Linked DNA regions of Homo sapiens. The protein of the gene in region 1 purifies or fractionates together with the protein of each later gene. This does not show direct contact. Each region holds a gene or a part of one and is shown in the gene's direction. Other genes may lie near its edges.

Region 1 (7,412 bases):
TCAGCAATATGTACTCAGTTGGTCCCTCCTTCCTTGAAACATTCCACTCTTTAGCTTCTATGGTGCCATATTTTCATAGCACCTCTCAGGGTCTGCTTATTCTAGCTGCTGTACAGGCTTCTCTTCTTTTATTCATTATCCAAAAAATTCGAATGCTAGAGGGGTCAGTCTGGGATCCTCCCATCTTTGTTGTCTATACTCTTTTTAGGAGAGCTCATATAATGACATGACTTAAAATGTCTGCTATATACTAATAGTTCCAAAATTTATATCTTTAACCCTGACTTCTTCAAACTCATACCAACTGCCTACTTGACATCTTTACCTTGATGTCTAATAAGCATTTCAACCTGAAACTGAGGGCTAACCTGATTTGGCCCACCAAACTTAACTTGTCTCATTTGTTTTTAGTTAATTTTAAAAGCTACATATTTAATAGCTAAAAGTCATGTAGCTAAGCAATATATACATAAAATTCCATTAGCTTCCTTACAGATTACATATCTGAGATATAGGTCACCATGGTAATGGTTGCTTGTTTTTCAGGAACTTAGAGTTAGCTCTTGTCCAGCTTAAGCCAGCTGAGACCAACAACTCTTCAACTGGGCCTGCATGAGTGTCCAATGGGTGACCTTTTGGCATCACAGGACCAAGAGCTCCACCCTCAGATCATGCTAAAGCTGCAATTTTGTGGACATGTGTCCTATGAAGAGCTATGAAGCTTGACTATGCTTGTGCACAGCACCAGTTGCCTCACTGTTTCTTACCCCAATTACCTTTCCCCATGCCTCAGACCACCTTGCTCCTTTATCCCGTAAATACCCTAAAACCCCATCTTTGGGAGCTGGATTTGAGATCTGTTCTCCTGTCTCCTCACTTGGCTGCTTCATGAATAAACCCTTTCTCTGCAGCAAAATTTGATGTCTCAGTGATTGGGCATATTGTGCAACAGGCAGAACAAGCCCAATTCAGTAACAAAACCAAATCTTCAAAATAGAGCAATGCTATTACCCTAGACTAAATGTTCTTAATATGAGGCTGGGAGCAGTAACCAGCCTCATAATTAAGAAGCTGTTTCGAAATGTAGGTGGGATTTTTCATTGTCACAGTGACTGGGGGTTGCTACTTATATTTCTTCTGAAATCTCTTTTTAAACTCAGCATTATGTTTGTGAAATTTATCAATGTCAATTCATGTAGATCTAGTTTATTTTTCTCACTGTATAGAATTTCATTATTTAATTATATCACAATTTAATTTAGTTACCCATTCTTTTGTGGTGAACATTTAGTTGATTTCCAGTTCCCTAAATTTACAAACCATATTGCTATGAATATTCTTTTTTTTTTTTTTTTTTTTTTAGCGACGGAGTCTTGCTCTGTCATCCAGGCTGGAGTGCAGTGGCATGATCTTGGCTCACTGCAATCTCCGCCTCCCAGGTTCAAGCAAGTCTCCTGCCTCAGCCTCCCAAGTAGCTGGGATTACAGGCACGTGCCACCATGCCTGGCTAATTTTCGTATTTTTAGTAGAGACGGGGTTTCACCATGTTGGCCAGGCTGGTCTCAAACTCTTGACCTTGTGATCTACTCTCCTCAGCCTCCCAAAGTGCTGGGATTACAGGCATGAGCCACTGCACCCCGCCCGAATATGCTTGAACATGTTTTCTTGTGTACAGATGTGAACATTGCTCTAGAGTATAATCTTTTTTTTTTTAATGAGACAGAGTCTTACTCTTGTCGCCCAGGCTGGAGTGCAATGGCGCGATCTTGACTCTCTGCAACCTCCACCTCCCAGGTTCAAGCAATTCTCCTGCTTCAGCCTCCCTAGTAGCTGGGATTACAGGCATGCACCACCATGCCTGGCTAATTTTTGTATTTTTAGTAGAAACAGGGTTTCACCATGTTGGCCAGGCTGGGAGTATATTCTTTAGAGTGGACTTTCTGCACCATCAGCTATGCACATCTTAAACTTTAATAGATATTATCAATTTGTTCTCAAAGTAATTGTACTAAGTGTATACCCAGAAAGATGGTCTTTTAGTGTACTGACTTACAAAGTTATGCTATGAGAGATGGATACCAGTATGAGAGAGAGTCCTCTCCTAGGTACTGTAAATGAAACATGAAGCTTCCTGGTCTGCCGCCAGGAATTCATTTTCCTCAGAGGGTGTGTCTGCATGGAACTCTGCTTCTGGAAGGGAACGAGGGAGAAAAAGAAAAGATAAGAAAAGGGTTGGACATGGTGGCTCATGCCTGTAATCCCAGCACTTTAGGAGGCTGAGGCGGGTGGATCACCTGAGGCCAGGAGTTCGAGACCAACCTGGCCAACATGGCGAAGCGCTGACTCTACTAAAAATAAAAAAATTAGCCAGGCATGGTGGCGGGCGCCTGTAATCCCAGCTACTCAGGAGGCTGAGGCAGGAGAATCACTTGAACCTGGGAGGCAGAGGTTGCAGTGAGCCGAGGTGGTGCCACTGCGCTCCAGCCTGGGCGACAGAGGGAGACTGTCTAAAAAAAAAGAAGAAGAAAGAAAAAGATAAAAAAGAAAAGACAAGAAAGGGAGAGCAAAGGACCAGGGACCTGATGAGAACATGAAATAAATGTTTTTTTTGCCGGTGTGACTTCTGATAATAGGCTGTACTGCAGTTCTGCCCAGATGTTGTGGGACATGAAGAAGCAGTTATATTTGTTTAGGTGGCTCTGTCTCTAGGCAGATTCTGACTCTTCTTTCTATTCCCAGTGTTAAGCCTCCATACCAGGACATTAACAGGCATGTAATAAACAGTTAGCTGAATGGATGAATGAGAGTACCCTGACACTGATATTATTTGTTCTGTTAAATACATATATTCTCACTGACTTGATCAAAACAAGAATTAAGGTTTCAATTGTGTCTGGCATAAAATAGAGAGTAGATAAATATTCTTTGAGTGGATAAAAGATAATCTAATTAATTTGAATTTAAACTACCTGAGCACAACCCTGTTAAATATGTTTTTTCTCATTGGCCTTAAGAAAAGAAAAAAGAGCCCAGAGCAGTTTGAACTATGTGAGGTATGCGGAATTTATCAGGCACAGAGAGATATGAGTTTGGGACTTCAGTCATGTCCCTACACCCCTGTATTAGTTAGTTCTCATACTGCAATAAAGACATACCCAAGACTCGGTAATTCATAAAGAAAAGAGGTTTAATTGACTCATAGTTCCGCATGTCTGGGGAGACCTCAGGAAATTTACAATCATGGTGGAAGGGGAAGAGGCATGTCTTACACAGTGGCAGGTGAGAGGGAGCGAGCAAGAGCAGGGAAAACTGCCCTATAAAACCACCAGGAGAACAGCATGGGGGAAACCATCCCCATGATCCAGTCACCTCCCACCCTGTGTGTGGTTCCTCCCCTCCACACTTGGGGATTATGGGGATTACAATTCGAGATGAGATTTGTGTGGGGACACAGAACCAAACTATATCAGTCGCCATGCTTGGGGGGCAATTGTTTCAAGTCACTTTGTCCCTTACTACCTGCTTCATCCATTTTCATGTTCTTCGAATTTGTGATACAAAGAAGAATGTATAGCCAATCAATAGCTTGTTATTGTAATGTAAGTTATCGGTAAACAATTTAGGAACTGCCTCTTCTTTTTTCTTTAAAAGCTACTTGTAAGTGCTGCTAATCAGAGCATATATTCAGGGCAATTTGAATCCATGCTCTCATGTGGCAGTCCTCAAACTTGGCTCAAATAAACTGTCTACTTATATTAATTTTGCCTCAGTTTTTCCCTTTAGGTTGACAATATTGCATCAAGTTGAATACTCACAGCAATTGTATGAACTAGGTAGTATTTATTACCGGCCCTATTTATACCTGAGGAACAGAGAAGTTGAACAACTTGTCCAAGATCACAGTTTCACAGCAGGAGGACCATTATTTGAAGCAGGCAGTCTGATTCCAGACACCCAGTTTTTACACGCTGTACTGTATTGTTTTCAAAACTCTAAGATTTCATGGATCTTTGATTTTTTTTTTAAATTTCACTTGTCCTTTTTTTTTTTTTGAGAACTACTACAACACGATGTGTGTGTGTATTCACACACATTTTTGGAAAATATCTGAAAAAAAACCCAAAGCACTTCACATGAATGGAGGGCCAAAGGAAGGGCTGGGGTACAGACGCCGTCCAGAAATACTTAAAAATAAATGTTTATACTAACACAAACTAGCAGCCATTCCCCTACAACCTGGAGTACTTTTTAACCCAATCTGTTTGGGATTGAGGGCGGGACTCCAGGGTCCCTGGGAGGCCCCGGCAGCCGCGCATGCTCAGAGCACAGGGACCGCTCCACCTCGTCCGTGGCCCTGCCCACCCAGGCCGCAAGAGCTGCCGGGACGGTCCCCATCTTCTTGGAGCGCTTTAGGCTGGCCGGCGGCGCTGGGAGGTGGAGTCGTTGCTGTTGCTGTTTGTGAGCCTGTGGCGCGGCTTCTGTGGGCCGGAACCTTAAAGGTGAGTAACTCTCGGTGGCTAATGAGAAGCTACAAAAGGGTCCGCTTTGCTGGTGCGCGACTGCGCGTTTCCGTTCTTTACTGCTTCTCGCGGCGTCCGTCCGCCCCTCGCCTTCCTCACGTTCAGGCCGAGCGCCGCGTGGGCCGCAGCCGGAGGCGGCGGAGCCGAGGGGGCGCGGGCGGCGGCGAGGCTGCCCCCGCGAGGAATGCGGGATCCTGGGGTTCCCCGCACGTGGCTGGTGCCCAGGCAGTTCCGCGGTTGCTTAGAGACGGGACTGTGGCTGCCCTCATCCCCATTGCGTCTTTTTTTTTTTTTTTTTTTTTTACCTCCACCGCCTTCTAGTCTCACCGAAGGCTTGTGGCCATCTCTGTAAAGTTTCTGGGGAGGTGGGCACGGGGTAAACGCCGGAGGGTTCTGTGGAGCCTATGGGACTGACTGGAGGCCAAAGAACTTTGGGCCGCAGATGTACACCAGCGTCACTCTTTTGGTCTGTTAGGGCCTTCATCGCTCACATCAGGTTTCAGTGTGAAACGGGAAAACGTGGGTAATATTTCATTTACAGTCGTACATTCTGGAAAAGTATCTGATGAAACGCAGTTCCAAAATTAGGCCAAATAGGTTTTGCAGGGTCTAAATAGTTATTTTATTTCATCGTTTGCTTTGTAGGGGGCCCTAGATCACGGTAGTAACTTAGGAGTGTAGATTGTGATAGACAAGACAATGCATAAAATTGAGTAATTTCTCTAGGGGGATGTGGATCACACAGTACCCCGTTGCAAGTGCTTCCTATGTGTATCCATGGTATCGAATGCAATTGCAGTGTGTCAGGGGATGCTTCCAGGAAGTGTACCTACATCAGTTCATAACTAGAGTCAACTAATGGCAATATTCTCGATGATTTGTTCACATAACTTTTGTACAGTTGGGATGACTGGGTGGCTTAGTAGAGTCCTGGAGGCAAGTACTTTGTAAGTAGAAGACTTGGTTTGTAATTTCTAGCAAACTAATAGCACAGCTTCCTTTTTTCATTGCAGTGCTAATGTCAGGAATACGAAACAGGAAACTGGCTATCCAATGTATTAGTAAATTAGTAGGCATACTCCCCAGTTTAATGTTGTGTTAGTATGACCACATTCTCCCATTTTTGTTTTCGTATGTTCCTTAGCATAGAGTATCTAAGGAACTGTAACATTTTTCACCTTAAAGTTATGATGTCTAACTTGGTAACAAGGTTTGGGTAAGTCAGTTGTGACTACATTTTAAAAGAAATGAGGCCGGGCGCGGTGGCTCACACCTGTAATCCCAGCACTTTGGGAGGCCGAGGCGGGTGGATCGCCAGAGGTCAGGAGTTCAAGACCAGTCTGACCAACATGGTGAAACCCCGTCTCTACTAAAAATACAAAAATTAGTCAGCCGCAGCCGTGGTGGTGGGCGCCTGTAATCCCAGCTACTCAGGAGGCGAAGGCGGAATCGCTGGAACCTGGGAGGCAGAGGTTGCAGTGAGCCGAGATCGCACCATTGCACTCCAGCCTGGGCAACAAAAGCGAGACTCCGTCTCAAAAAAAAAAAAAAAAAAAGAGGTGAACCCATACCAAACAAATGCACAGAGAGCCATGGTAATATACAGATAGATAGTTATCTGTTTAAAACTGGAAATGGTTGGTAAGTGATTGGAGTTTTTTTCCCTAAAGCTTGCTTGACCAGCTAAGTGAAGATAAACAGTTTCTTGTTATAGAAGATGGGGTAGTGATTTACTGAAAGACAAGTTTTTTATAGTTTTTAGATTTTTTCATCACTTATTCCAAAGTGTTGCTTTGTTGAGATATTTGAGAACTGAGTAAAGAAACTGAACCCGTGAAAATAGAAATTCTTGATTTTTTAAGAAAACGGGATATTAATACTTTGTAAACATTATCTTTCTATTCTTGAGTTTTATATAAAAAATAACTTTATGCTAATTTGGGAAATTTTACAGATAGCCGCAATGGCTGAAAATGGTGATAATGAAAAGATGGCTGCCCTGGAGGCCAAAATCTGTCATCAAATTGAGGTATGATTCCTGTGCTATAAACTGCAAAAACAAGTTCCTTGAAAGAAAATACAGAAAGAACATTTAATTCTAGTACATGGACATATTCAACATTTGGTTTGCCTTTGATTCTTAGATGAACATATAATAGCATACAGTTTTATATTGGTGGAGCCAGGTTGTGAAACTTAAGATGTACAAACATTTCAAAAGGTAACACTATAAACTAGAGTTACTTAATCTTTTTAAAATTTTAGTTTCATAGTCTCATATAAAATTTTAGCTTCATAGTCTCATATAAAATGAGAATAATAGTAGTTCCCTCCTCATAAGGTAGTTTGGAGGATTAGTGAATATAATGTTAAGTACTTAGAAGAATTCCTGACACATAAGTAACATAAAAGTCCTTGGTAAAGTACCTTCCCTGTTAAATAACACTATATTTTTGATGATCTTAGTTTTTTTCTGCCCAGTCAGTTCTCAGCTATTGTAACTTTAATATAGTTTTTTTTTTTTTTTTTTTTTTTGAGATGGAGTCTCACTCTGTTGGCCACGCTGGAGTGCAGTGGCACTATCCTGGCTCACTACAACAGTATTGGCTCACTGCAGCCTCTGCCTCCTGGGTTCAAATGATTCTCCTGCCTCAGCCTCCCAAATAGCTGGGACTACAGGAGCACGCCACCACACCTGGCTAATTTTTGTATTTTTAGTAGCGACAGGGTTTCACCATGTTGGCCAGGCTGGTCTCGAACTCCAGACCTCAGGTGATCTGCCCACCTCAGCCTCCCAAAGTGCTGGGATTACAGGTGTGAGCCACTGTGCCCAGCCAGTAACTTTAATATAGTATCTGTTTTCAAAACCCTCTTAGCATTTTTTCAAATTTA
Region 2 (7,026 bases), on another chromosome or scaffold:
TCAACACAGTAATAATCAATTCAGCCAACAATCATGCTTGGGTACCTAAATAATTGGGTAAAGACTTTGGGGGAACAGGATTTTTACACAATTTCAAAAGTATTTCCCCACTGATGACTAATTAAAAGCAAAGACAAAGAGACTCTTAGAGTGTAAAAATCTAGTAAATACTATCCTAATTAAATGATTAAAGTTATTATCATTGTTGGACAAAATCACTGCCTTTTGATGTGATGCATTGAAAAGGGCCATATCACCTCAGTAATATTTCTACCAAAGTGTTTACCTGAGTCTCAGCATGAGGAAACAATCAGATAAATCCACATTGAAAGACGTGTAAAAGCGCTGGCCTGGATTCTTCTAAGGGCCAGATATCATGAAAAACAAGGCTAGACAGATCACTTAGTGGAAACCAAACAGACATCACAGCTGCAATGTGTGATCCTCAATTGGATCCTGGCAGCCTAAAAAACAAAAAGATGGCCAGGTGCACTGGCTCATGGCTGTAATCCCAACACTTTGGGAAGCTGAGGTGGGTGGATCACTTGAGGCCAGGAGATCGAGACCAGCCTGGCCAACATAGTGAAACTCTGTCTCTACTGAAAATACAAAAAAACATAGCCAGGTGTGGTGGCATGTACCTGTATTCTCAGCTACTCGGGAGGCTCAGGCAGAAGAATCTCTTGAACTTATCTCACGCCTGTAATCGCAGCACTGTGCGAGGCCAATGTGGGTGGATCACCTGAGGTCAGGAGTTCAAGACCAGCCTGGCCAACATGGTGAAACCCGTCTCTACTAAAAATATAAAAATTAGCTGGGCACGGTGGCTCATACCTGTAATCTCAGCACTTTGGGAGGCCGAGGCGGGCGGATCACCTGAGGTCAGGAGTTCAAGACCAGCCTGGCCAACATGGTGAAACCCCATCTGTACTAAAACTAAAAAAAAATTAGCCGGGCATGGTGGTGTGCGCCTGTAAGCCCAGCTACTTGGGAGGCTGAGGCAGGAGATTCACTTGAGCCAGGGAGGCAGAGTGAGCTGAGATCATGCCACTGCACTCCAGTCTGGGCAACAGAGAGAGACTGTCTCAAAAAAAAAAAAGGAAAGAAAGAAACAACATTGGGTGTTAGTGGTGACACTAGAGATAAAAAGGGGAGAAAGGCTTTTCAGTACTCTGTTTCTCTATATACATTTCCTATTGAAGAAGGCAAGGAATTTCTAATGAAAATTTCTATATATTGATAGCAGCATGATACAGATTTGGGTAGAATTCCAGCTATATATAACATGTCTTTTAAAAAAAGAAAGGGAGGAAATAAAAAGTTAGATGTCAGTGGAAATTTTTTTCAGGCAATGAAAATATGAATTTCTTTTCCTTTTCTCTTTTTTATATTTTCCAAGTTTTCTGTAATGAGTTTACAAAATTTTTCTGATTGACAAAAATAATGACCTTTTTTTAAATGCTTGATACCATTCTTTCTATGGGATTTGTCTCTGTCCCCATCCCTTTTCTCACCCCTCTCCCCACAAAAAGTAGAAAATTCCACAGATATTATTGTTCTGTTACTCATCAGCATGTAAATAACAAGAGGCTTTAAGTATATAAAATATGGCCAGGAGTATGCAATTTGAACAGGAGCACGTACCATTACACTGAAGGAAGAATGCAGAGAGAAGAGAAGGACACGCCCACCTCACCTGCTGCAGTGCCTTTTCCTTTCAGGGGGTCATAGGTGTGCTGTATCTTGTTTTCTGTACTGTTCCAAGCAGACAATCAGTATCTCATGATCCTCTTTCTACTCTTTTTTGTTTTGTTGCTTTTTTTTTTTTTTTTAAAGAATAACTGCACAAAGACTTGCCCACCTGAATAAGTGCTTGATGAACTTTAAGCTAGGGAATTTCAGCTATCAAAAAAACCCACTGAAATTGGGAGAGCTTCAAGGAAACCACTTCACTGTTGTTCTCAGGTAAAGAACTGCAGGTGGGAATGTAGACCAGAGGGTCTGGCCAGGGCATCTTGAGTATGTTACTCACGGTTGGTCATAAGGTCCTGGTGAGCTGGTACTAACAGAACAGGAGTGGCAGCAAGGGAGGGCAGAGCAGGGCCTGGCAGGGCTGGGAGAGCAGATACCTCTGTGAGAGCAAATACCTCTGTAGGATTTGTGTGGACACCTTGCCCCTTGAAAACCTAGTGCAGCCTTTGGAAAGACACCATCTCCTTCAAATATTGTAGTAAAAGACACCGAGCCGGCTGGGCGCAGTGGCTCACGCCTGTAATCCCAGCACTTTGGGAGGCCTTGGCAGGTGGATCACAAGGTCAGGAGATCGAGACCATCCTGGCTAATACGGTGAAACCCTGTCTCTACTAAAAATACAAAAAATTAGCCGGGCGTGGTGGCAGACACCTGTAGTCCCAGCTACTCAGGAGGCTGAGGCAGGAGAATGGCGTGAACCGAGGAGGCAGAACTTGCAGTGAGCCGAGATCGCTCCACTGCACTCCAGCCTAGGGGACAGAGTGAGACTCCAACTCAAAAAAAAAAAAAAGACACTGAGCCTGTGATTCCACTTAAAGCGCCTAGAATAGGCAAATCCATGGACATAGAAAGTAAAATAGTGGTTACTGGGGAAAGGGTAGGGTAGGGGTAATGGAAAGTTACTGTTTAGGGGTACAGAGTTTCATTTTGGAAACGGGAAAAAATTTGGGAAGTAGATAGTGGTGAGGATTGTCCAACATTGTGCATATAATTAACCCATTTATGCTAGTGTTCCATTATTGGAACACTAAGCATGTAGGAATTATTTATATCCTACTGCTCAAGGTCATCGCCAAGGTCTGATTGCAAAAATTCAAAAAATTGCAACCTCTGCCATAAATGGGTTAATACCGCCAAATTGCACACTTAAAAATGGCTAAAATAGTAAATTTGACATTATAAATATCTTACCACAACTTAAAGAAAGAAAGAGCCCTTGGGAGGTAGAGAGAAAGCTGCAGGAGAGTGAACGAAAGACTTGGAAGCCAGGCCGTAGTCATTTATGAGCTGCATCCCTGAGTATTTGACTGTAACTTTTTTTCCTCTGGATAATTTGTGTCCCTGTAGAAATATAACAGGAACTGATGACCAAGTACAGCAAGCTATGAACTCTCTCAAGGAGATTGGATTTATTAACTACTATGGAATGCAAAGATTTGGAACCACAGCTGTCCCTACGTATCAGGTTGGAAGGTTGGTATTTAATTTCTTTTATCAAAAATAGCTTTCTCATAAACAAAGCAGGGTTTGTTGGTGGTGGTGTTTTTAATTATTTCTACGTTCTCCCATGTCTGGGGCAAATGAACCACAGTTTCATGATTTTTGTTTTAAGTTAATGAGTGCACAGGGTAAAAAATCGGAGTTCAAAAGGATATGACCTGAAAAGTGAGCTTTCCTACCACTCTTGGTTACCCATCCAGGGGTTCTATTTTTATTTTTTTATTTTATTTTATATATTTATTTTTTCTGAGACAGAGTTTCGCCCTTGTTGCCCAGGCTGGAGTGCAATAGCGCAATCTCGGCTCACCGCATCCTCTGCCTCCCAGGTTCAAGTGATTCTCCTGCCTCAGCCTCCTGAGTAGCTGGGTTTACAGGCATGCGCCACCATGACTGGCTAATTTTGCATTTTTAGTAGAGATGGGGTTTCTCCATGTTGGTCAGGCTGGTCTCGAACTCCCAACCTCAGGTGATCCCCCGACCTCAGCCTCCCAAACTGCTGGGATTACAGGCATGAGCCTCCACACCCAGCTATTTTTTTTATTTTTTATTTTTTTGAGATGGAATCTTTGTTGTTCAGGCTGAAGTACAGTGGTGCAATGTTGGCTCACTGCAATCTCCACCTCCCAGGTTCAAGCAATTCTCCTGCCTCGGCATCCCAAGTAGCTGAGATTGCAGGCTTTTGCCACCACATCCAGCTAACTTTGTTGTATTTTTAGTAGTGGCGGGAATTTCACCATGTTGGCCAGGCTGGTCTTGAACTCCTGACCTCAAATGATCCGCCTACCTCAGCCTCCCAAAGTGTTGGGATTACAAGTGTGAGCCACTACGCCCAGCCCTATTTTTATTTTTATTTTGTAACAGGTAAGTCTTGGCTCAGTAAGTGATTCAACAGTAATCTGTTGGGTAACTCAGACCCAGAGTAGCCAGACAGAGATGTCACATTTTCTGATCTGTGTTAACACGTTTATTAAACTTTGATCTGCCCTTCCCTCGCTCTTAATTTTATTTTATTTTTTATTTTTATTTTTTGAGATGAAGTCTTGCTGTTGCCCAGGCTGGAGTGCAGTGGTGCCATCTCCGCTCACTGCAACCTCCACCTCCCAGGTTCAAGTGATTCTCCTGCCTCAGCCTCCCACGTAACTGGGATTGCAGGCATGCACCACCTCACCCAGCTAATTTTTGTATTTTTAGTAGAGCCGAGGTTTTGTCATGTTGGCCAGGCTGGTCTCGAACTCATGACCTCCAGTGATCTGCCCGTCTTGGCCTCCCTAAGTGCTGGGATTACAGGCATGAGCCACTGTGCCTGGGCCCCTTCCCTCACTCTTTAAAGAATGTAATAAATGATAAAATTAGTGACATGGAATTTAAGAATTGTCATTTACTTTTAAACAATTAAGAACCCCTCTAGGGTAACCTACAGTGGGAATCCCATCAATAAATAGTTGGGTTCCTAAATCTACTTCTGGAATCCTGTTGCCCAGCAGAGACTCTGTTACATAAACTAATTATTCGCGTGGGAGTTAGAATTGTGGTAGTTACAAGCTGGAAGTTATCTAAGCGTCCATGTTCTTCCTTGTCTTTCAGACCCTTCATGTTAGCAAACTTAGGCTTTGAGAGGTCTGCCTGAACTCATCAATTGCTTGGCTTTAGTTTGGGAGTAGAGTTTTCCGGGCTTCCAGTCCATTGTTTCAGCATCTAAACTATGAAGTTGCATTCATTTTTGTGATTTTAAAAGCGCAAAATGATAAAAATCTATATTTCCTCTGCCTCTTTGAGGAGGTTAAAAAGCTCAGGTGAAAACAGACTTGAGTTCTGAGGCTTAAATTACTCATCTGTAGAATGGAGATAATAATACCAATTCACAGAATGGTGAAAATGAAGTGAGATGATGTTTATGCTACATCTATTTTTATGCCTAGAATATAGTGATTGCTAATATGTTTTCAACCTTGCTAATGGTCAGAGGACATTGATAAAATAGTAAAAATGCTAATTGTATTATGGGACAGAATAAGGGAGCACTGTATCAACCTGTAAATTTGTAATTAATTTGGCAGAAGGACAGCCATGGAATCCTATACGTTGTGTATGCCAAAGATAGTGTAAATAAATATAAGTAATTAAAATGAGGTCAAATTTATCCCACAACAAAAATTACATAGCGTGACCAAAGGTCAGTACGGTCAGCTCAAAATTCCAAATCATTCATTTTCACAACATAAGAATATTTCCTGCTTTCAAGGAAACGCACTGTTAACACCATAGAATTTCCTGAGGGAAAAAACAGACTTTCAGTTTATATTGTATAGGTGGAGAAATGACTTGTATCCAAAATATTAAAAGCTCTTACAACTCAAGAACAGAAAGACAACGCATTCTAAAACTTAGCAAAGGGTCTGAACAGACCTTTCTTTAAATAATGTAATCAAATGGCCAATAAGCACACAAAAAGATGCTTATCACTAATCTTTAGGAAATGCAAATCAAAACCACAGTGAGATGCCACTTCTTACCCACTAGGATGGCTAAAATAAAAAAGGCAGAGAATAACAAGTGTTAGGATTAGAGAAATTGGAACCCTTATACATTCCTGGTGGAAATGTAAAATGGTATAACGATTTTGGAAAATAGTCTGACAGTTCCTCAAAAGGTTATAAAGTTAGCCTATGACCCAGGCATTTCTAGGTATATACTGAGGACAACTGAAAATCATATGTTCACACAAAAGTTTATACAGATGTTCATAGCAGCCAAAAGACTGGAAACAACCCAAATGTCCACCTACTGATGAATGGATAAACAAAATATACAATGTAATATACAATAATATACAGTGGAATATTACTTAGCAATAAAAAGGAATGAAGTACTGATACATTCTGCAACGTGAATGAACCTTGAAAACATTGCTAAGTAGGCAGGGCACAGGGGCTCATGCCTGTAATCCCAACAATTTAAGAGGCCAAGGCGGCAGGATCACTTGAGGCCAGGAGTTCAAGACCAGCCTGGGCACCATAGCAAGGCCCCATCTCTACAAAATAAAATTTTTAAAAAATTAGCTGAGTGTGCTGCTGCCTGGCTTTGGTCCTAGCTACTCAGGAGGCTGAGGCAGGAGGATCACTGAAGCCCAGGAGTTTGAGGATGCAGTGAACAGTGTACCACCACTGCACTGTGGCCTAGATGACAGAGCAAGACCCTGCCTGTGAATGAATGAATGAATCAATTTCTATGAAATTTCCAATGTGAGCAAATCTATAGAAAAAGAGCTGGAACAGGACCAATGGGGAGTGACTACTAATGGGACAGGATTTTTTTTTGGTGGGGGTGGGTAATAAAAATGTTGTAAAATTGTGTAATGCTCCACAGTTCTTTAAAAATACTAAAAGCCATTGAATTGTACACTTACATGGGTGAATTATATGTTATGTGAATTATTGAATAACTCAGCAAAAACTTTGAAAAAAAGAAAGTGAGCCAGGCACAGTGGCTCACGCCCGTAATCCCAGCCCTTTGGGAGGCCGAGGTGGGTGGCGGATTGCTTGAGGTCGGGAGTTCAAGACCAGCCTGGCCAACATAGTGAAATCCCGCCTCTACTAAAAATACAAAAATTATCTGAGTGTGGTGGCATGAACACCTGTAATCCCAGCTACTCGGGAGGCTGAGGCAGGAGAATTGCTTTAGCCCGGGAGGCAGAGGTTGAAGTGACCCAAGATTGTACCACTGCACTCCAGCCTGGGCGACAGAGTGAAACTGTCTCAAAAAAAAAATAATAAA
Region 3 (7,026 bases), on another chromosome or scaffold:
GTGACTCAAAAGTGTGGCCGATTTAGGGAACCAATAAAGGTGACACACCCAGAGACCAGCAATGGTGGTAAGCCTCTGACACGGGAGCGTGGGTGATGTGGCAGTATATTCTGTCGTAATCAGCTTCCTGGTGGCACAGAGAAAGGAAGAGAAGGAGTGGGATGGGGCACAATCAGAATTAACCACCACATGATTCCCAGAATTCAGTGTTCTGTGCACATGGGCCATGTCCTGAAGCTAGGTGGGCTTTCTACCGTCCTTAGGTCTTTGCTGGAGTAGACCGTGTGGTATAGTGGAAAGAATGAGGCTTGGGGTCAGACACAGATTTGAATTTGAATCCCAGCTCCAACAACACCTTGCAACTGTGAATCTTGGACAAGATACTTCTCCCTGGGCCTCGGATTGCTCTTCTGGAAAGAGCTATGTCCCAGGATTACCGTGAGAATTAAATCAAAAAGTGTGAATCACACCTCGCACACACTGCCTAGCCCCTGGTTGGCACTCAGCAGATGTTAGTTTTCTTTTGAGAAGAAAGCATTGTGTTCCTGTGGGATTTCTCTTTTAAATTGCAATAAGATAAAAAATCTATGTCATAGGAAACCTCAAGTTGCCTGGTCCTCAGTAGAGCATTGTCAGTGTTAGGCTCCATTTCCAAGTGTGTAGATTGTCAGTGTTTATTTGCAAGTATAATTTGCTTTTATTAGATAATTTTCAAATAAAATGGCCGATCAGACCAAGCCCAAGAAATTTGTTAAATCCTTGTTACTTCGATGAGTCTTTGCTTCCCCTTTCCAAAATTCAGTGTTCTTGTGGCTTATTCATTAATTTTACGTCTCTATCCCAACCAGGTTCTCTCTAGTTCCTTTGTTGCTTTATGTTCAGAGATAATGCTGCTGATCATCCATTGTGGAGACCACTTTTGAAATAAACTGTAGTGAACATGTCTTTTCTGTACTGGATAGAAAAGATATTCAGTTAATTGATTACTTTTTTTCCCTAGAAAAGTAACTTTCGAAAAACAGTGGTTCTACCTGGATAACGTCATTGGCCATAGTTATGGAACTGCATTTGAAGTGACCAGTGGAGGAAGTCTACAGCCCAAGAAGAAGAGGGAAGAGCCTACTGCAGGTGCACATTTTGGATGCGTGAAATAGATGCTCTCCAACTGACTAGTCAGAAACATCTCAGCCTCCACCTAATTCCCAAGTGCTAGGCCATGCTATCCCAAAAGAAATCTTAACTCATAATCTAAGAACTGCAGCTCAGTGGAGTGAAGCAAGTACTGCCTTTGGCCATGAGATAACCTGGATTCTGGCTCCAGCCCACCATTAAATGGTTCTCTGTTCTTGGGCCAGGCATTTAATCCTATGAGTCGTTGCTGCGTCATTGCAAGAACATAATGTAAAGTTCTTTCAGTGCCCAGAAGTTATGTAACAGCTGTGAGGTGGTTAGCATATGGTGTAGAGGTTAAGAGGTCTGGTTTTGGATCCAGCTAAGTTCAATTTCTACCTTCATCACTTGCCTTGTACCGTTGGGCAACTTATTTGATTTCTGTGAGTCTTATATCCTTATATATGTAAAATAGGGTCATAAACACATTTAATGCCTAGGTTGTATTGAGTGTTCTATGATATGACTCATAGGAAGTTCTGAATAGTGTCTTGCTTTTAGTAAGGGCCCATAATTTTAGCTATTACTATTATTATTTCTTAACAACCTCTTGTCCAAAAGCTGTTATTGTTAATTAAAATTATATTTATTAAAATGAACATTGAGAGTATCTTATTAATTAAAACACAAGTAATTATTTGAAGTTAAATACTGTTAAAGTTTTGAGTCAAACCTGTTATTTAGATACATTTAAATTAATATCCATATTTTTACTAAGCACCAAATATATGCCAGGTATAATTTGGCGCTGCAATTATAGCAGTTCATAAGATAGACTGTCGTATAAAATGTGCTTACCAGTTGGAACACCAAAAATAATCAAGTAGACAAGCAAACAGCATGATTTCTGATGGTGAAGTGACACATGCTATGAAGATAATAAAGCAGGGGCGTGTACTAATTTGGTAAAGCAAGAGAATGAGCTCAGCCTCAAGTGATAGAAAGGATCCAGCCACTCAGACATCTGTCGTAGAACCTTCCAGGCAGAGGAAGCAGCAGGTGCCAAAAGCCTGCTGTGGGACCTTGCTGGGTGTGTTCAAGGAACAGAAAGAAGGCCATTGTGGCTGAAGCTAAAGTGTCAAGAGATCAGGCCAGGAATGATAGGCAGGGGCCAGATCATTTATGACCTTGCAGGTCATCTTTGGAGTGTATTCTTATTGCTATGGGAAGCCACTGTATGGTTTTAAGCATGGGGTAGATGAGTCAAATTGCATTTAAACAAAGAGCACTCTGGCATCCAGGTGGATAGTAGGGGGGCAAGACTGGGAGCAGGAAGATGACTTAGAGGCTTGGAGTAGTTTTGGCAGGAAAGGATAGTGTGATGGGGGCAGTGCAGCTGGGAGGCCAGACTTGAGTGGCTGATGGACTGGATGTGGATATGAACTCAGAAAAAGAAAGTGTCAAATAATTTCAGACCATAAATGTCAATAGAGCAATTTCTTTCCTTAGAGACTAAAGAAGCGGGCACTGATAATCGAAATATAGTTGATGATGGGAAATCTCAGAAACTTACTCAAGATGACATAAAAGCTTTGAAGGACAAGGGCATTAAAGGAGAGGTAATATTCAAAGGATTTTTAGTTTTGTTTTTGTCTGTTTGGCATTTAGGAAACTGTTGGGTTTTTAAAGCAGACTGTACCTAAGGTAAAACAAAAAAATAACGTTATAGCTTTGATAGAAATAGGTTGAAATGTACATGTTACTCAACATTTCAAAGATTTTATGTCTTATATACAGGAATATAAGTGAATGACATTACTAATGTCAGTGGTAGAGAATGTAATAACAGTGCATATCAGGATTTAACTTTGTTCATTTTCAGTAATGTTTTCAGCCAGTGTCTTCAGAAATTAGTTTCCTTTACCTCTCTTCTCCTTTTGTTGGATATCTCTGTTCTTTTACGTTGGTTTAAGTGGAGTTATAAAGTACTTGTATTTTATTATAAATTCCAAATAGAGTATAGAAATATAAAGTTCATCTATTTGGACTTCTGTGGAAAAGGGATTGGAGAATCAGACCATTGGATCCATTCTTGGGTAAGAAGCCTTTGGAAATTACTTGTTTTGTGAAAGTAAAGTTTCAGAAAATCTACTTGCTCCTTTTCTTATAGGAAATAGTTCAGCAGTTAATTGAAAATAGTACAACATTCCGAGACAAGACAGAATTTGCCCAAGATAAATATATTAAAAAGAAGAAAAAAAAGTAAGTAGTTTTTATTTTAAAAGGCCCACAATATTAAACTTCTTATATGTTTATAAAATATACATTTTATTACAAATAAAATATTTTAAGTCATTTTTTTAAATCAGCGTTCTGTTTTTTCTTCCCCCAGATATGAAGCCATCATTACTGTTGTGAAGCCATCCACCCGTATTCTTTCAATTATGTATTATGCAAGAGAACCTGGAAAAATTAAGTACGCTTTGTTTCCTTTCAAAAGTATAATTGGGGGAAATATGTCTTTAAGAAAGTCATGATTTTAAGTAAAATGAAAAAGCTTGCTCACCTGCATAAAGTATCCTCCTACCTCATAAATTGTAAGTCCTTTTACTGTCACCTCCAAAGCAATCAATAATCTTATCAACACAATTTTAATAAAGCAAACAAAACTTGAAAAATGATGATTAAAATAATAGGCTTTACTTAGCTAAAAATGAACAAATTATTGTTTTTACTTTAGCCACATGAGATACGATACACTAGCCCAGATGTTGACGTTGGGAAATATCCGTGCTGGCAACAAAATGATTGTGATGGAAACGTGTGCAGGCTTGGTGCTGGGTGCAATGATGGAACGAATGGGAGGTAAGATTTAATATTTCCATTTTCAACAAAACCCCACCCTGATGTGAGTAAAGGTGGTCCAAAAATGTAAACTCATGGAAAGCCAAATTGAATTACTTCAGGGTTAACAAAGTGACTTGGGTGAACCTGCACGGCTCCTAGCATGGGGACCTTCTTACACAGTCTCCATCACCCAGCCCCCCACCCATGGGTACCCCCAAACCCATGGCAATTGTCCTTTCTAGCTTCACTGTCAGTGGGCATGATGCTGGAGCCTGTGGCTGGCTAGGGCTTTCGGGACAGTGATTTTAGTAAACTCCTGGGTAGCTGGTGCTCATTTCATTGGGCCTAAATTGAAGGGATTGAGTGGGAAGATTACTAAGCATGTATTCTCTCTGGAAGAATACAACACAGCCTGATTTGTCTGGTTTTTTTCTGACCCCATAGAAGGTAAGAACTTGTAACTGCTCCATTTGAGGATCGGAGTGAGGGGAAGCAGAGTCCGTCACCAATCATGTGACATCCAAATTTGCAGACACAGGGTTTTACAATAGTATCAAGTGGGGATAAGCTTCTTTGAGTCTTCCTGCTATCTGCTTTAGAATTATATTACCTCCATTGGTAATACTCATAGACTCCAAACAGACTCCCTGAGGAGCTGCACCATCCTTCAGCCTCTGAATAAAGTACTAATAGAAAGACCTTCAGTCTCATTACTGTGGAGGACTCACTGAGGGTTTACGTAGTCTAGAGTCACTCCACGGGCAGATGTTTGTTTCTTTTATCTGTTCAGGTTTTGGCTCCATTATTCAGCTATACCCTGGAGGAGGACCTGTTCGGGCAGCAACAGCATGTTTTGGATTTCCCAAATCTTTTCTCAGTGGTCTTTATGAATTCCCTCTCAACAAAGTGGACAGTCTTCTACATGGAACATTTTCTGCCAAGATGTTATCTTCAGAGCCAAAAGACAGTGCTTTGGTTGAAGAAAGTAATGGCACACTGGAGGAAAAACAGGCTTCTGAACAAGAGAATGAAGACAGCATGGCAGAGGCCCCAGAGAGCAACCACCCAGAAGACCAGGAAACAATGGAAACAATTTCTCAAGATCCAGAACATAAGGGGCCTAAAGAGAGAGGAAGCAAAAAAGATTATGTAAGGATGCCAAGAGTCCCCACCACCCCCATAATCTCAGTCCCTCAGTTAACTTCAGTTAAGTCATGAGATTTAGTTTGGCTTTGGTGTATTAGCTCCCAAGATGATAACTATCAAAACAGAGAACGAGTGTGTGTACATGTATACAAACGTGTGATTCGGTCTTCGGGATGGAGCTTTAGGATACAGAAGCGTTGCATAGATAGCTTAATCATGGTTTTTATAGTATATAGGCTTTCTTGTGTATTTGCAACTTCCTTATAAACAACCTGCTTCTATTGGTTTAGTCCAAGTTGATAAATATTGTTGAAATGTTTTGACAGGCCAGAGCATTTCCATAAATTTGACTGAAAGACCCCAGTACATTGATTTCTTATTTTTCTTTTTGAAGATTCAGGAAAAACAGAGGAGACAAGAAGAGCAGAGGAAAAGACATTTAGAGGCTGCCGCTCTGCTGAGTGAAAGAAACGCAGATGGGTGCGTTGATGGAAGAAGGCAGGAGACTCCTCAGTGCATGTGGGCTCTGCTTCAGACAGATTGGCATTCTCTTTCTCCTTGTCTGCTTTGACTCTAGTGGGACCCGAGATGAGGATTTTGTCTTGGGGGTTTTTTTAAAGAAAGGAGGCTGAGGCTGGCAGGGGTGGGGAATTGATGATGCTGGTTTCAGGGTTTCAGAAGAAATTGAATCTTCTCCATCACTGCATCAAGATGGGCCCTGTGGTCCCACTGGATGCAGGGGATGGGGCACTCAAATGCTGCGATACAGGCTATAACAGATATCCACAAAGCAGCTTATGCAGTGTTGGATTTGTTTCCAGGTGATTTTTTTTAAAAAATCAAGAATGTCATTAAATGCGACTTAGAGTTGCCAAGTACCACAAGAGCTTCTAACCTAGTTCGCGTTTCCTAGAAAGAAATAGCTCATGATTGTATTCTGTTTTGGATTTCTAGAATGTTATATTTAAATCTCTTCTCTTTGTGAGTCATGCAAATTAAATACATGATCATTTTAAATGCATTTTAAAACCTGTGCTCCACTTTGAGGGTGTAGAGAAATAATTTGTCTGGCATTTTCCTTACAGTTTAATTGTAGCTAGTCGTTTCCACCCCACTCCCCTGCTGCTGTCTTTGCTGGACTTTGTGGCCCCTTCAAGGCCGTTTGTGGTCTACTGTCAGTACAAAGAGGTAATACTGGAATGGAATGGGCAGGAATTCTTATGTCTGAATGTTGATTCTTAAACTGCATCCCAGGAAGTAGTTCTTAACAGAATTCTGTTGTTGTCTGCAGCCTCTGTTGGAATGCTACACAAAACTGCGGGAGAGGGGAGGGGTCATCAACCTCAGGCTGTCTGAAACCTGGCTCAGAAATTATCAGGTACGTGTTCTTACAGCCAGTCCCAAGAGCTGCCCTCCCGAGACTTGACTTTCCTTGCAGTAGTACTAGAAGTCATTAAATAGAGTTATCTCAGCCAGGCACAGTGGCTTATGCCTGTAATCCCAGCACTTTGGGAGGCCAAGGCAGGCAGATCGCTTGAGCCCAGGAGTTCAAGACCAGCTTGGGCAACATGGTGAAACCCTGTCTCTACAAAAAAAAATACATAAATTGGCTGGGCATGACCCTGTATCTACAAAAAATATAAAAATCAGTCGAGCATGGTGGCAGGTGCCTGTAGTCCCAGCTACTCAGGAGCTGAGGTGGAAAGATTGCTTGAACCCTGGAGGTCGAGGCTGCAGTGAGCCGAGATCCCACCACTGCACTCCAGCCTGGGTGACAGAGTAAGACCCTCTCTCAAAAACAAAACAAAATAAAAATAGAGATGTCTCTGTTTCTTTCTACAGGGATGGAGATTTCTCATGGCTGTTACTCAGAGAATATGCCCCTGACTTTTTGTGACCCTTTTTTTCTCTTGTTATGTCAGA
Region 4 (7,026 bases), on another chromosome or scaffold:
ACAAAGATCTATTAAGATTGTCACATCTTAAACCTTCCAGTGAAGGTAAGCATAAGATCTTCATTGGGAAGAAGGGTGGGTAAGGGATATTCAATAAATAGCAAATTTTTATTTAACATAAGACAAGTGTGTAATATTTTCTAGAAATAGCCTTTTATTCTCAAAATATACATTAATTCAAATATATTTAATGCCTTCCTGGGATTACACCCCTACCACAGGCGATCCAGACATTAATAATCAAGAATCAAATGACAGGTTTATAGGTTAATATTCTGAATCTTAAAATGCCACCGTCCTAACTGGAATGCTCACCCAAGTGATTCTGGACTGTGTAAGTAGCAGGGGCAAGACTAAAAGTTGCAATAAGCCTTGGATATGGGTACAGTCACTAGAAGGAACTGCTTTTGAGTTCCAGCTTTGCCAGTTACTCATCAGATATTCAAACTTGGTCTCAGTATAATCGTTTGTAAAACTTAGGTAACTGTACACAGCTGTTCCTTAAGATTATGTATAGAAAACTACTCTGTAACCAATAAAATGCTAAGTAGAAAAGCAAAAAAAAAAAAAAAAAGTTGCAATAAGCAAATCAGCTCCTTGCCAGTAGGCGGCAGATGGCCATGCTGTACCCACTGCTCTAGCCCATTCCTTTTTTCCCTCCCCATCTTCCTAGGAACCCATCTTCCATGGAACCTAAAGGAATATACCAGATATAGTGCTGAACTTAACAATTCAGGAAGTTAATTGTCTTCAGGCAGTTAGTCAGGGGACATAATAACTTGGGGCAGTTTTTCTGTATCTATGGAAAGAGACTTTTGAAAAGTTAGTTGGCTCCGTAATAATTACTAGTCCTTTTAAGAAAAGAAATAAGAAAAACTCTTGGGCAGGAGTAATTTGAAGTGTGAAGTTCCACAAAAATCAACATGTTCAAAATTTGACTTTTTTTTTTTTTTTGCACCGGAAGTGAAACTTGAAAAGACAGCCACTCAGAAGGGTGGGTTCACATTTCAGTTCTGTGGACTTAAGCCAAGTAAGTTAAGCTGAGTTTCTGACCTTCATCTATTAAAAGGAGGGTAAGGAGAATAAGCTTACAATTATTGAGACTAAATGTCCCAGCACCTAACATGTAGTAGAAGTACACTTTGGTTCTCTATTTCTCCCTTCCACACATATTTTTATATACAGAATCTCTTCAGTAATTCCTGACTTATTTTTTAACTATAACTGGGGTTTTTCAAATGAAATGTAAATAATAAATTGCAAATATTTATATGTATAAACATTTTATTTTGATTTTATTAGATTACATGTTTTAAAATAGTTGAATAATACAGAAAAATATGATGCAGTCCTACTCTTCAAAAGAAATAACTGCATATCAGCAGTCCACAACCCTTCTGATACCAGGGACTGGTTTTGTGGAAGACAGTTTTTCCGCAGGCAGTGGGGAGGGCAGGGTGGTTTCAGAATGAAACTGTTCCACCTCAGATCATCAGGCATCAGATTCTCATAAGGAGAGCGCAACCTAGATCCCTCACATGCTCAGATCATAGTAGGATTCGTGCTCTTATGAGACTAATGCCCAGCTACTGATCTGACAGGAAGTGGAGCTCACTTGCCTGCTGCTCACCTCCTGCTGTGCAGCCCAGTTCCTAACAGGCCACGGACTGGTATCCGTGTATAGCCTGGGAGTTGAGGGCCCTTGCTGTATATCAGATGTTGTAATTTACTCCAGATTTTTCCTAAACATATATTACTGTGTTTCACTAAATTTTGTTACATGCCTTCTATGTTTCAGTAAAAAGTATATTATTGCTATTGCTATTGCTGTTTCTTTCAGGTCAGTAGAAATAGTTGCATATATACCATTGTATGACTGTAATTTATTAGCTAGTCTCTTATTGACAAGAGTTGTTTCTGGTTTTTTTATACTGTTACAAAAATACTACAATGAAAACACTTGCATAGAGTACCTACTTTCATAATGGTTAAATCCACAAACAGTATGTGAAAGGGATCAGTGTACCCACATTTGAACACTTAACTGTTGTCATTATTTTTTAATCTCTTTCAGTAGAATCATGAAAGATTCTTTGAATTTACATTTTTGGGCAGAAGCTCATCTTTGCATGTGCTGATTATATATATATATACACCTATATATTGTATAATATAGTATATATAATATATAATGTTAGTATATAGTATAGTATGTAATATATATATACCTATATACATATATATACCTATATATGTATGCATATAATTATATGTATGTATATATAATATATATGTATGTGTGTGTATATATGTATAATTATACAATTACATCATAGCCCTTTTGTCCACTTAGTTACTGTCTTTTTAACTATTGATTGTGATCACTATTCATTCAACAAATATTTATTTATTTATTTGTTGTATTTATTTTGAGATGGAGTTTCACTTTTGTCACCCAGGCTGGAGTGCAATGGCACAATCTAGGCTCACTGTAACCTCCACCTCCCAGATTCAAGCAATTCTCCTGCCTCAGCCTCCCAAGTAGCTGGGATTACAAGCTCCTGCCGCCATGCTCTGCTAATTTTTGTATTTTTAGTAGAGGCAGGGTTTCACCATGTTGGTAATGCTGGTCTCGAACTCCTGACCTCAGGTGATCCGCCTGCCTTGGCCTCCCAAAGTGCTGGGATTATAGGCATGAACCACTGTGCCTGGCCCTCAGCAAATATTTATTGAGCACCTACTATGGATAGAAACTGTTCTAAGAACTTGGGGTTCATATTAGAGGAGTTGATAATGTATTATTTATATACAGTGCATGCATTTTTTCTTCTTTTTTTTCTTTGTCTTTTTTTTTTTTGGTTGGGGGACATTTCTGGCACACTAAAGTTTTGAATTTTAATGTAGTCAAATTTATCCATGTCTTCATAGGTTTATGTTTTGTGTTAGGATTAGAAGGGCCTTTTCCAACCTAAAATATTTATCTGTGGTTTTTTCCTAACATTTTCTTGGTTAAGAAACATTATTTTTTACATTTAAATTTTTTATCCAAATATTTGATCCAACATAAGAAGGACTTAGGCATCCAGCTTTATTTATTGGTTTGTTGAGATGTGTCTTGGAAGTGTGGAGCAAGTACTAGACTAAGAGAAAGACCGCCCATTACTAGTTCTAACTGGACCAATTAGTTTCTGAACTTGTGAAAATAATTATTCTGTGCTTTGTCTTTTTGGTCTATATAATGAGGAATTAGTAGATGTTTCCTAAACTTACTTCCACACATAGGATTCTTTAATTTGAAATTGTTGAGGGCAGAACTCACAGTTGAAACCATGTTAGTAATAGCAATATCACATTGGACAGAGAATCCCTAGCATTTCAAAGCTTAAAAATTTGGAAAAACTCTAAGCTACAGAATTAATAGTATTTTAATGCCTTTAAGTGTAATGTGTATTTATAACAGACAAAACAAGTCAAAATGTGATTCAAGTCATCAGGTATGGTATTTTTATTGTGCACCCACTGCATGGCCAGCGCAATTACAGAACCGGGTAGGATAAAACTGCTTTAAGGAATTTTTATTTTCACTGGAAAAACAAAATAGAAGATATACTCACAGGAAACATTTACTCATTTAAGATGATTTTGCACCAAAATCTGGAAGATAGCAAGAGTCACAATACTTGAGAAGTTCCTGCATGTTAGTGTTAACTTTTGATCAAGTTATTTAGCATTCAAAAATAACATAATAGGCTCAGTTGGCATAGAGATGTGTTTCATGTGGCCTATACAATATTTTTGGGTAAAAATGAATTCTTTGTCATTATCTTTAAAAATCGACATAAAAACCCATATTCTGGCTTCTCTTGAAAGTAAGTTTTTTTTCTTTTGGCAGCACTAAGTCAATACGTGTCTACACCACTTGTCAGGGCACACTCTGTTCAGTCACCACACCCTAACAACTCTCTATTACATCACTGTGTTTGTTTGTTTGTTTGTTTGTTTGAGACAGAGTCTCACTCTGTTGGCCAGGCTGGAGCACAGTGGCACGATCTTGGCCCACTGTAACCTCTGCCTCCTCAGTTCAAGTGATTCTCCTGCCTCAGCCTCCTGAGTAGCTGGTATTACAGGCATGTGCCACCACGCCCAGCTAATTTTTTTTTATTATACTTTAAGTTCTAGGGTACATGTGCACAACGTGCAGGTTTGTTACATATGTATACATGTGCCATGTTGGTGTGCTGCACCCATTAACTCGTCATTTAACGTTACGTATATCTCCTAATGCTATCCCTCCCCCCTCCCCCCACCCCACAACAGGCCCTGGTGTGTGATGTTCCCCTTCCTGTGTCCATGTGTTCTCATTGTTCAATTCCCACCTATGAGTGAGAACATGCAGTGTTTCGTTTTTTGTCCTTGCGATAGTTTGCTGAGAATGATGGTTTCCAGCTTCATCCATGTCCCTACAAAGGACATGAACTCATCCTTTTTATGGCTGCATAGTATTCCATGGTGTATATGTGCCACATTTTCTTAATCCAGTCTATCATTGCTGGACATTTGGGCTGGTTCCAAGTCTTTGCTATTGTGAATAGTGCCGCAATAAACATACGTGTGCATGTGTCTTTATAGCAGCATGATTTATAATCCTTTGGGTATATACCCCGTAATGGGATTGCTTGGTCAAATGGTATTTCTAGTTCTAGATCCCTGAGGAATCGCCACACTGACTTCCACAATGGTTGAACTAGTTTACAGTCCCACCAACAGTGTAAAAGTGTTCCTGTTTCTCCACATCCTCTCCAGCACCTGTTGTTTCCTGACTTTTTAATGATCGTCATTCTAACTGATGTGAGATGGTATCTCATTGTGGTTTTGAATTGCATTTCTCTGATGGCCAGTGATGATGAGCATGTTTTCATATGTCTTTTGGCTGCATAAATGTCTTCTTTTGAGAAGTGTCTGTTCATATCCTTCGCCCACTTTTTGATGGGGTTGTTTTTTTCTTGTAAATTTGTTTGAGTTCTTTGTAGATTCTGGATATTAGCCCCTTGTCAGATGAGTAGATTGCAAAAATTTTCTCCCATTCTGTAGGTTGCCTGTTCACTCTGATGGTAGTTTCTTTTGCTGTGCAGAAGCTCTTTAGTTGAATTAGATACCATTTGTGAATTTTGGCTTTTGTTGCCATTGCTTTTGGTGTTTTAGACATGAAGTCCTTGCCCACGCCTATGTCCTGAATGGTATTGCCTAGGTTTTCTTCTAGGGCTTTTATGGTTTTAGGTGTAACATGTAAGTCTTTAATCCATCTTGAATTAATTTTTGTATAAGGTGTAAGGAAGGGATCCAGTTTCAGCTTTCGAGATGGAGTTTTGCCACGTTGGGCACACTGTTCTCAAACCCCTGACCTCAGGTGATCCACACTCCTTGGCCTCCCAAAGTGCTAGCATTACAGGCATGAGCCATGGTGCCTGGCCTCACCGTGGTGGTTTTATTTATTTTATTTGCTTGTCCCTCATAGACATTTTAATGTTGTAATCCAATCCCTGCTGTTTTACAGAAGTGGTGAAACTAAGACCTAGAAAGACCACCATTTATTGGCAGAGTATAGGCTAGAACCCAGACTTTCTCACCCCCAATCCAAGGCTCTTTTCTCTTTCTTCTATTGGAAGAAATTGTGGAGGAAATCAACAAGTTACTGTTTCCTTTTTTTTTTTTTTTTGAGCAGTAATACTTCTCAGCTATTAAAACATAGTGTAAAAGAAGCTACCCTGTCCACTTCTACTTATTTCTGCTGTTTTTGTAAATATATATATTTTATTCAACAGCAAAAAGAGACAAGTGAATATAATTAATATAATATAATACATTACAATACAATACAATATTAATTGAGATAGATCTGTACTCTCGTGAGTTGTTCTGAGATTATGGACCTGAAACTTTCTAATGCTGGTGTCTTTAAAAAGAAAAGAAAGAAAAGCCTCTGTAACAAAATACTCAGGATACAGGTTTTTTTACTCTAAAGTCTCATATTTAAATAGTAATGATGGAATAAGAAAATTAATTCACCCCATTTGCTTAATTGTTATATCATGGAAAGCAGCATCCCAGTGTAAGGGCATTAACTCTTGTGTATCCAGTTATGTTGATCATATAATGCATTTTGAGGAAACATGTTCTGTTTTTTTACTTGGTAATCCTGCATGCTTTTTCAATTCTTTATCTTGTTAAAGGACTTGCAATTGTGACCAAATATATTACAAAGGGCTGGAAAGAAGTTCATGAATTGTATAAAGAAAAAGCACTCTCTGTGGAGACTGAAAAATTATTAAAGTATCTGGAGGCTGTAGAGAAAGTGAAGCGCACAAGAGATGAGCTAGAAGTCATTCATCTAATAGAAGAACATAGATTAGTTAGAGAACATCTTTTAACAAATCACTTAAAGTCTAAAGAGGTGAGTGAATTATATGTTACAGCATGTGATTAAACATGAGTAATTTAGTGTAGGTGCTAAAAGGATAAACTTGGGGTAGCTATATATTTATACTTTTAAAAAGAAATTATTTAAAATATATCTTGAAATTGATGTCTGTTTAAAACACCTACCATGATGTCCAACATGATGTAGGTGGCATTTGTGTTAGTTTCACTCCAGAAAATCTACTGCCTTGCTAATTAAAAAAAAAATCATCTATGCATTTCCTTCATAAAATATACTTCACATCCTTTTTCTAGTAAAAAACAAGTTAGCTTATTTGATAAGCCTTTTACTTAGACATTTTTCATTCTGAAAGTACTTTGAACCCCAAATGAAAGCCTCAGAGACTGTATTATGAATATTTTTTTATATAGGTATGTTATACTGATTTATTTTCCCTTAATTCCTGGTATTTCTGCCTATGTTATTGCAATAGGTATGGAAGGCTTTGTTACAAGAAATGCCGCTTACTGCATTACTAAGGAATCTAGGAAAGATGACTGCTAATTCAGTACTTGAACCAGGAAATTCAGAAGTATCTTTAGTATGTG

What was found.
Region 2: the proteins of SSB (region 1) and PUS7 purify together in Homo sapiens (affinity purification with mass spectrometry; 2 studies listed by BioGRID and IntAct, with this or other methods). This does not show direct contact.
Region 3: the proteins of SSB (region 1) and TRMT6 purify together in Homo sapiens (affinity purification with mass spectrometry; 2 studies listed by BioGRID and IntAct, with this or other methods). This does not show direct contact.
Region 4: the proteins of SSB (region 1) and RO60 purify together in Homo sapiens (affinity purification with mass spectrometry; 3 studies listed by BioGRID and IntAct, with this or other methods). This does not show direct contact.

The regions. Positions count from the first base shown.
Region 1 is NC_000002.12:169,794,478-169,801,889, forward strand, and holds the start of SSB (lupus La protein), read left to right. Parts: upstream 1-4,393; 5' UTR 4,394-4,499; intron 4,500-4,824; exon of another isoform or gene 4,825-5,039; intron 5,040-6,474; 5' UTR 6,475-6,483; coding exon 6,484-6,549; intron 6,550-7,412. UniProt on the Homo sapiens protein: Binds to the 3' poly(U) terminus of nascent RNA polymerase III transcripts, protecting them from exonuclease digestion and facilitating their folding and maturation.
Region 2 is NC_000007.14:105,477,251-105,484,276, reverse strand, and holds part of PUS7 (pseudouridylate synthase 7 homolog), read left to right. Parts: intron 1-1,836; coding exon 1,837-1,965; intron 1,966-3,099; coding exon 3,100-3,225; intron 3,226-7,026. UniProt on the Homo sapiens protein: Pseudouridylate synthase that catalyzes pseudouridylation of RNAs.
Region 3 is NC_000020.11:5,940,508-5,947,533, reverse strand, and holds part of TRMT6 (tRNA (adenine(58)-N(1))-methyltransferase non-catalytic subunit TRM6), read left to right. Parts: intron 1-1,000; coding exon 1,001-1,128; intron 1,129-2,619; coding exon 2,620-2,729; intron 2,730-3,280; coding exon 3,281-3,372; intron 3,373-3,502; coding exon 3,503-3,586; intron 3,587-3,850; coding exon 3,851-3,975; intron 3,976-4,747; coding exon 4,748-5,106; intron 5,107-5,497; coding exon 5,498-5,583; intron 5,584-6,188; coding exon 6,189-6,291; intron 6,292-6,394; coding exon 6,395-6,481; intron 6,482-7,026. UniProt on the Homo sapiens protein: Substrate-binding subunit of tRNA (adenine-N(1)-)-methyltransferase, which catalyzes the formation of N(1)-methyladenine at position 58 (m1A58) in initiator methionyl-tRNA.
Region 4 is NC_000001.11:193,069,590-193,076,615, forward strand, and holds part of RO60 (RNA-binding protein RO60), read left to right. Parts: coding exon 1-45; intron 46-964; coding exon of another isoform or gene 965-1,030; intron 1,031-6,230; coding exon 6,231-6,451; intron 6,452-6,911; coding exon 6,912-7,026. UniProt on the Homo sapiens protein: RNA-binding protein that binds to misfolded non-coding RNAs, pre-5S rRNA, and several small cytoplasmic RNA molecules known as Y RNAs.